2 separate regions of the Homo sapiens genome follow, and region 2 is linked to region 1. Evidence: fine-mapped expression QTL. A gene starts in region 1. The other region holds a variant in brackets. All regions are shown on one strand. Distances are from middle to middle. Region 1 holds the start of ZDHHC1 (zDHHC palmitoyltransferase 1). Region 2 holds the start of LOC107984881 (a long non-coding RNA gene).

What was found. PIP is the estimated chance that this variant, and not a neighbour inherited with it, causes the effect.
Region 2: its variant is the best candidate, but not a certain one, in a credible set for the expression of ZDHHC1 in thyroid (GTEx, PIP 0.84).

Annotation. Positions count from the first base shown.
Region 1 is chr16:67,414,181-67,418,571 of GRCh38, forward strand. It overlaps ZDHHC1 (zDHHC palmitoyltransferase 1), which reads right to left and starts at 2,297. Exons shown (of 12, transcript NM_001323627.2): 1 at 1,991-2,297. LOC124903702 (a long non-coding RNA gene) reads left to right here and starts at 1,723. Exons shown (of 2, transcript XR_007065093.1): 1 at 1,723-1,963. RefSeq lists a silencer at 1,964-2,353 and an enhancer at 2,186-2,843.
Region 2 is chr16:66,951,281-66,955,671 of GRCh38, forward strand. LOC107984881 (a long non-coding RNA gene) reads right to left here and starts at 2,919. Exons shown (of 4, transcript XR_007065090.1): 1 at 2,843-2,919; 2 at 1,523-1,627. RefSeq lists silencers at 172-372, 372-572. The variant C/A (reference allele first, on the strand shown) is at 2,358.

The DNA.
Region 1 (4,391 bases):
ACTCATGACTGCAGGAGCCAGCCTTGGGGAACACCCACCACACAAGAGTCATTAAAAACAACGTTGTGACAGAACAAAGAAAGAAAAACAAAAACAAAACAAAACAATCTGGCTAATTAAGCACCACTGTTGCTTTTACTGCATCTCATGGTGATTATCTGTTTACAAACCCGTCTCCCACAGTGAACCACCAGTTCCACAAAAGCAGAGACCACCCCTCACCCGTGTCTGAACCCAGCTCTCTTTCAGTAAAGGAAGTCAAGCCACTTTTTTACCATCTCTGCTGTCATTACCCCAATCCAAACCTCCAGCATCGCTCTCCTACAGTGTTTGCATGATAATAACCAACACCAGCATTTAGAATGCACTTATTCTGTGCCAGGCACTGTTTCAGTGGAATTCACTCATTCAATCCTCATAGAGCTCTAAGGAAGGTCCTATCATTTCCAACTGTTCTTGTAGATCCCTGTAGTCACTGATTTCAGATGTGACTGGCCTCTCACTTCCTCATAAAAAACATACAGAACACCCACTCCCATCATGAGGACACTGAGGCTCAGAGACACTAAATGAGTTATTTTAGGAGGCACAGCTAGATTGGCAGAACTAGGATGGCCCTCAACTGACTTCCCGGTATGTCTGTCACAACCATGCTGCTCAGCAGCCAGAGTGAAGTGAGCTTTTCAAACGTGAAACTCATCCAAACTCTTCTTTGGGAGGCCAAGGTGGCTGGATCACCTGAGGTCAGGAGTTCAAGACCAGCCTGGCCAACATGTTGAAACCCCGTTTCTACTAAAAATACAAAAATTAGCTGGGTGTGGTGGCAGGCGCCTGTAATCCCAGACTTGGGGGGCTGAGGCAGGAGAATCGCTTGAACCCGGGAGGTGGAGGTTGCAGTGAGCCGAGATTGTGCCATTGCAGTCCAGCCTGGGTGACAGAGCGAGACTCCATCTGGAAAATAAAAATAAAAATAAACAAAAAATAAAAAACTCTTCTGCCGCTTGCAGTGGCTCACACCTGTAATCCCAGCACTTTGGGAGGCTGAGGCAAGAGGATCCCTTGAGACCAGGAGCTCGAGACCAGCCTGGGCAAAATAGTAAGACCTCATCTCTACCAAAACCTTAAAAAATTAGCTGAGCGTGGTGGCGGGTATCTGTAGTCTCAGCTACTTGGGAGGCTGAGGCGGGAGGATCGCTTGAGCCCGGGAGCCGGAGCCTGCGGTGACCCATGTTCACACCACAGCACTCCAGCCTGGGTGACAAAGGGAGACCTTGTCTCAAAAAAATAAAAAATTGGCTGGGAACGGTGGCTCACACCTGTAATCCCAACGCTTTCGGAGGCCGAGGCGGGTGGATCACCTGAGGTCAGGAGTTCGAGAACAGCCTGGCCAACATGGTGAAACCCCGTCCCTACTAAAAATATAAAACTTAGCCGGGCGTGGCGGCGGGCGCCTGTAATCCCAGCTACTCCAGAGGCTGAGGCAGCAGAATGGCTTGAACCCGGGAGGCGGAGGTTGCAATGACCCGAGTCGTGCCACTGCGCTCCATCCAGCCTGGGTGACAAGAGCGAAACTCCGTCTCAAAGAAAAAACTAAAACTCTTCCCATGGTTTCCTTTTAAAACAGACCCTCCATGACCAACCCCTCCATTTCAATACCAGAGAGCCTAACCCGACCTGAAATCACTTTAGTCATGTATGACATCCGCTTCCCAGCCCCCTTCCTTAATGCTCTGGGTTCTGGAGACAGACCACGTCTGTTGGGAGTCCTCTGTGCCCACGCCTGGCACAGAGCCTGGCAAAGAGTAAGCGCTCAAGGAAGATCTGTGAACTTGATGCATGCTAAAAGGAAGCCCCGCGCTCTGCCGGGGCCCTGGAACTCAGGCCACCGGCTCCAGGCGGAAGCGAGCCCAAAGCCGGCCAGGCGGCAGCATCCGCTACCCCGTGGCTCAAGCCAGGCTCCGAGGTGAGAAACCGGGCGGGGACTCCTCACCTGCGCGCCGCGGAGGCCGTGCCAGATGGGCCCTGCCAAAGTCAGCCAGAGGTTCGGGCCCCACGCCTGGCCTTCCACCCTCCCCGGGGCAGCCGCGCCTCAGACCCTCGCGGTAGGGACGGTCCCCGGGACTGGGCGGCAACGCGCCCGGGAGCGGGGCCCCATCCCGGACGGAGACTGGGCCGGTGAGTCCTCGAGCTCTGGCTCTGGCTCCGGCTCCGGCTCCGGCTCCGGCTCCGGCTCCGGCTCCAGCAGGCTGGAGGGGCGGCCAGGCCAGACCCAGACTGGCTGGGCCTCGTCCGGCGCTGGGCCCGTTCCCCTGACAACGGCGCGGGCTACGGCGCCCCACAGCGGCCAAACCGCGCTGCGTCACTCCGCGCCGGTCCCCCGGCCAGGGCGGGGCTTGCCAGGGACCCTCTTGGTGCCCCAGTCGGCCCATTCCCAGATTCTTCCTAACCTTTCGTCTAGAAAATCCGCTTTTCCCTACTCCCGAGTCACAGCTTGTCTCCCCGAAATCCTAACATCTCAAAAGCGCCCCCTTCCAGTTTCTATCCTGAGACCACCGCTCTCAAGAAGAGACCTCCCCCAACCCCAGTCAACCTGCACACTTCAATGAGCGTATGTGCTGGAACATCCATGATATCCCGACCCTTCCGGGAGCTTACAGGTTAAGAGGCAAACAGATCTAGACAAATAAATTACACCACTAAAAATGCAGGTACCCCAGAATATAAAGCGAGAAGCGTAAGAGCTTAAAATAAGCAGCACAAAATATCTCATTTATTTATTGCCTTTAAATCAAGCAAAAATCAAGCCCCAATCTTCCAGGCTGATGGGAAATTCAGTCTTTTTCTATTTTTTAAACTGGTCTCTGTTACCCAGGCTGGAGTGCAGTGGCACGATCACGGCTCTCTGCAGCCTCGAACTCCTGGGCTCAGGCGATCCTCCCGCCTCAGCCTCCAGAGTAGCTAGGACTACAGGCGAACACCACCACGCCCGACTAATTTTCGCATTTTTTTGTAGAGGCGTGGTTTTGCCATGTTGCCCAGGCTGGTTTCGAACTCCTGAACTCAAGCGACCCGCCCACCTCAGCCTCCAAAAGTGCTAGGATTACAGGCGTGAGCCCCTGCCCGGCCGGGAAATTCAGTCTCAGTCTCCACTGTACTCCTTTTAGCTAGGTAATTCCAAAGGACTCATGTTTTCCTATAGCAAAAAACAACAATCAAAAACAAATAAGCAAAAAACTCTCTGGTCAGGGTTTTGTCTGGTACTGAGGCCACAACCATTGCTCCAGTCCACAAAGATTTTCAGGTTTGGGCTCTATGAGGCCATCCCTGCCTGAGGCCCCTGCCTCTCCCTGGGGCTGCCAGGGACAGACACCTGCTTCCTCTGCTCCATGGCCTGCAGCCTCCCTTCCCTTTCTCTACCTGGGAGACTTCCCTGCTAACTTGGTTTCCCTAAAAGTCCCCTCTCCTCTTCTCCTTGTGGACACTCAGAATGGAATCTTCTATGAGCTCAGGCTTTCTCAAAAGACAGGAAGACACTTTGTCTTCTGCTATCTGTCCTGTGCGCATCTCCAAGGCAGATATGACAGATAGGGAAAGAAAACATCCTTATCTCTAAAATGTATAAGTCACAAGCATACTTATTGTATGTTTTATTAGGCAACATAACTACTCCTTCTCTGTCACATGACAGGTGTGTGGGTCCTTGTGCAAGTGACATAACCTATTACTTAAATTCTTGTTTTCAAGACTGATAAACTCAAACTCAATGTGAGATAAATATCAATGCTATTCTGGCTTCAGAGTACAAGCTGACTACTTAACTCTTATCTGGAATTGGAAAACTTCGGGTCAAACAGAGATCATGACCCAGAAATCAAGGTGAAGGATGAGGCTGGATGCAGTGGCTCACACCTGTAATCCCAGCACTTTAAGGAGGCTGAGGCAGGAAAATCACTTGAAGCCAGGAGTTTGAGACCAGCCTGGGATACATAGAGAGACTCCCATCTCTACAAAAGATGAAAAAAAATAGCTGGGCCTGGTGGCCTGTGCCTATAGTCCCAGCTACTCACGAGGCTGGGGCAGGAGAAAAGAATCACTTGAGTTCGGGAGTTCAAGATTGCAGTGAATTACGATCATGCCACTGCACTCCAGCCTGGGTGAAAGTAAGATCTTATCTCTCAGCTGGTCTCAGTGGCTCACACCTGTAATCCCAACACTTTGGGAGGCCAAGGCAGGTGGATCATGAGGTCAGGAGATCGAGACCATCCTGGCTAACACGGTGAAACCCCATCTCCACTAAAAGTACAAAGTAAGCCAGGCGTGATGGCATGTGCCTGTAGTCCCAGCTACTCGGGAGGCTGAGGCAAGAGAATGGCTTGAACCCAGGAGGCAGA
Region 2 (4,391 bases), 460 kb before region 1:
GCTTTATAGTTAGGAGTGGAATTGCTGAGTCATATGGCAACTCCATGTTTAATCCCCTGAAAAACTGCCAGACTGTTTTCCAAAGCAGCTGCACCATTTTCCTTTCCCCTGGCAATGTATGAAAGTTCCAAGTTTTCCATATCCTTACCAACACTTATTATTATCTGTCATTTTTATGTGTTTCTTGAATCTCTTTCAGTCTTCAGATTTACCATCTGCCTCTCTTTAATTTTCTTTCTAAATTTTGTTGCATGTGGAAGAAACCAGTTTATTTGTTCTGGAGAGGATCCCACCATTTAGGTTTTGCTGATTGCATCCGGGTGGTGTCTTTTAACAGTTCTTCTATCCCCTGTCTACTGTGTAAACTTGTATTTATATTCTAGAGGCATAATCAGATTTGGGTTTTAGGTTTTATTTTGTTTTGTTTTTTGGAGGACCACTTCACATGTGGTGCTGCATACTTCTGATAGAAAATATGTAACGTCTGATTATCTTGCTTGTTGGGATACCACAAAATGAGTGGTTGACATCACAGTGAGAATTCAATGTGCATTTCTCTTACTATGAATGACTTAAAGATCTCTTCGTTTATTTGAGAGACACTGATTTGTAGTGCTTATTCTGAACACATTCTTATGCTACTTTTTCTGTTGTATACATGACATATTCTTTGTTTGTAGAAATTCTTTATCGATTAAGAGGACTGATTTTCTCTGTTAGGCAATTTTCCATCACTTCCTCCCTCCCTGATCCCCACAGCAGTCACACTATGTTTTTTCTGGAGACTGGGTCTTGCTTTGTTGCCTAGACTAGAGTGCAAAGGCGGGATCATAGCTCATGCAGCGTCGAATTCCTTCTGCCTTAGCCTCCTGAGTAGCTGAGTAGCTGGCCCAGAGTTTGAGACCAGCCTAGCCAACACGGTGAACCCCTGTCTCTACTAAAAATACAAAAATTAGCTAGGCTTGGTGGTGCACACCTATAATCCTACATATTCAGGAGGCTGAGACACAAGAATCACTTGAACTCAGGAAGCGGAGGTTGCAGTGAGCCAAGATCGCACTACTGCACTCCAGTCTGGGTGACAGAGCGAGGGTCTGTCTCAAAAAAAAAAATAAATAAATACTACCGGTTTCGGCCAGGCACGGTGGCTCATGCCCATAATCCCCGCACTTTTGGATGCCGAGGTGGGCCTCCTGAACTTGAGCCCAGGACTTTGACGCTAGCCTAGGCAGCTTGGAGAAACGCCATCTCTACAAAAAAAAAATTCAAAAATTGGCTGGATGTGGTGGCACGCACCTGTAGTCTCAGTTACTCAGTAGGCTGAGGCGGGCAGATCACTTGAGCCTGGGAGGTCAGAGCTGCAGTGAGTCGTGATTGTGCCACTACACTCCAGCCTGGGCAATACAGCAAGACCCTGTCTCAAAAAAAAAAGTTTCCTATACTGATATAAAACTTAAAAAAAAATTTTACAGATTGATGTTATAAACTGGGTGCCTTCATGTGACAGAAATGTATTGCTTACAGTTATAGAGGCTTAGAAGTCCAGGATCAAGGTGTCAGCAGATTTGCTGTCTGGCAAGGACTTGTTCTCTGGTTAATAGATGGCAGCCTCTCATTGTGTGCTCCCCTGGAGGAAAGGGAAAACAAGCTCCATCTGGCCTCTTTTGTAAGGACACTAATCCCCTTCACCTCCTGAAGTCCCCACCTCTTGACACCATCACATTGGGGATTAGGTTTCACCATACAAATTTTTGAGGCAATACAAACATTTAAACCATAGCACTTAGAGCTCCCAGATTTCAGCCACCAAGGTCACCAACTACTGAAAATGTAAAAGTTCCTATACTCCCCTTTTGTCCCACTAAATGTCGTCTATCATTGACATTTAAAACAAGCCACCTTTACAGGCCAGGTGCGGTGGTTCATGCCTGTAATCCTAGCACTTTGGGAGGCCAAGCCAGGTGGATCACCTGAGGTCAGGATTTCGAGACCAGCCTGGCCAACAAGGTGAAACCCTGTCTTTACTAAACACAAAAATTAGCCAAGCGTGGTGGCACATCCCTGTAATCCCAGCTACTTGGGAGGCTGAGCCAGGAGAATTGCTTGAACCCTGGAGGCGGAGATCATAGTAAGCTGAGATTGTGCCACTATACTCCAGCCTGGGTGACAGAGCAAGACTCAATCTAAAAACAAAAACAAAAACAAACAAACAAAAACAAGCCACCTCCTCGCCTATCTGTGTCCTGCAGAGGTGACTCAACCCATTTTTGTAAGAAGCAAGACTGGGCTTGTCCACAGGCCCCTGAGCCTGGGCCTCCTGTACAGTTGCCAGGAAAGCCAAGCCGATTCCTCAGTGG[C/A]CGTCTCCTGAAGGTTGCTCTTCTTCTCAGTGGTTCTACAGACACTGTAAGGCCCCTACTCACAGGATCGTAGCACACTCGCGAAGATGTTTACCTGTGGGGTGTGCCCCGGAAGTGGGATTGAGGGTCCAAAGGTCCAGGCATATCTAAGAAAAGAGATTCCTGTTCCCTGGCTCCCAGGAGCCTCTCCACCCAGGGAGATGTTCTCTGGCCTTTCAGAATTCCCTTGCCAACCTTTCAGCCCCCTGAGCATCCCCGAACTCACCATGTGTGTCCATATGATTATTTTCCTACTTACCTCATTGTTGTCCCTAAACTTTTCTCCTTCCTGGCTTCGCAAAAATCCTCCTCATATTTTATCTCAGTGTGCAAAGGTGGCCAATTGTGTTCAATCGGCCTCTTGGTTTCACCAAAGTATATTCCCTCTGTCATTAAGAGGCTGTATTCTAGTCCCATAGACCCTAATAATCCCCTTATACCCCTACCTCTGACCAACTTGCCTCTCGGGGCACCGGATTTCCAGGGCGAAAGTCTCCCTTCTTTCCATCCACGGCCTTTAAGCCCAACTACAGCTTTTTGAAGTTTGGAGCGAAAGACCAGGACACCCACTTTGCCCATTTGGGCCACCAGGTGGCAGACAAGGATAATGTTAAACCTGGGCTGACTTGAACTTGAGAGAGCAGGGAGACTTTCCTTTCAATAAACACTGGTGCATAATGTTTCCACTACATTCTGAAAGCATTTATTGAACACCGGCTGCATGCCTGTCTCTGTATGTTTTTCAGTTCTGCAGAGGTACAATATAGTTTCCCAATATACATTCCCAGGATTACTGTTTAGACTTAATAGTTATTTTTTAACAGCTTTATAGTGAAATAACTTACAATTAAATTTACCTCCCCCCACCCTTTTTTTTTTTTTTTTTCTGAGGCAAGGTCTCGTTCTGTCACCTAGGCTGGAATGCAGTGGCACAATCACAGCTCACTGCAGCGTCCACCTCCTGGGCTCAAGCCATCCCCCACCTCAGCCTCCCAAGTAGCCAGGACCACAGGCACATGCCACCATGGCTGGAGAACTTAAATTTTTTTATTTTTTATTTTTGGTAGAGGCGAAGTCTCACTAGGTTACCCAGCTGGTCTCCAACTCCTAGGATCAAGTGATCTTTCCATCTAGGCCTCCCAAATTGGTAGGATTACAGGCAGATGTGAACCACTGTGCTTGGCCTAAACTCACCCATTTTCAGTGTGCAGTTTGATCACGTTGAGTAAATGTATAAGACATGCAAACACCACCACGTGGAGTTTTACAATATTTCTATCACTCCAAAATTCCCTCAAGCCCTTTTGCAGTCAATCGTCCTGATCCATGCTCCTAAGCAACCATCGAGTTGCTTTCTGTTGCTATAGTTTGCATTTTCTAGAATATGAATGAAATAATACAAATTATAAATTAATATGATAGTACTAATTATATAAATGAAATAACTTGCGATTGGCTTCTGTCAATTGTGTTTTTGAAATTCAACCAGTAGTTCTTTTCTTTTATCGTGGAGTGGTATTCCATGTATAAATATACTCCCTTTCTTTTTCTTTAGAGACAGGATCTTGCTATGTTGCTCAGGCTGGTCTTGAACTCCTGGGCTTAAACAATCCTCCCGCCTCGGCCTCCCAAAGTGCCGGGATTATAGAAGTGAGCCGGTGTGCCTCGCCAATATACGCAACTTTATTAATTCATCAGTGTAGGGGTGGCCTGCCCCTCCACACCTGTGGGTATATTTCATCAGGTGGGATGAGAGACTGAGAAAAGAAATAAGACACAGAGACAAAGTATAGAGAAAGAAAAGTGGGCCCAGGAGACTGGCGCTCAGCATATGGAGGACCTGCACCGGCACCGGTCTCTGAGTTCCCTCACTTTTTATTGATTATTATTTTCACCATCTCAGCAAGAGGAATGCGGCAGAAGAGCAGGGTGATAGTGGGGAGAAGGTCAGCAAGAAAACATGTGAGCAAAAGAATCTGTGTCATAATTAAGTTC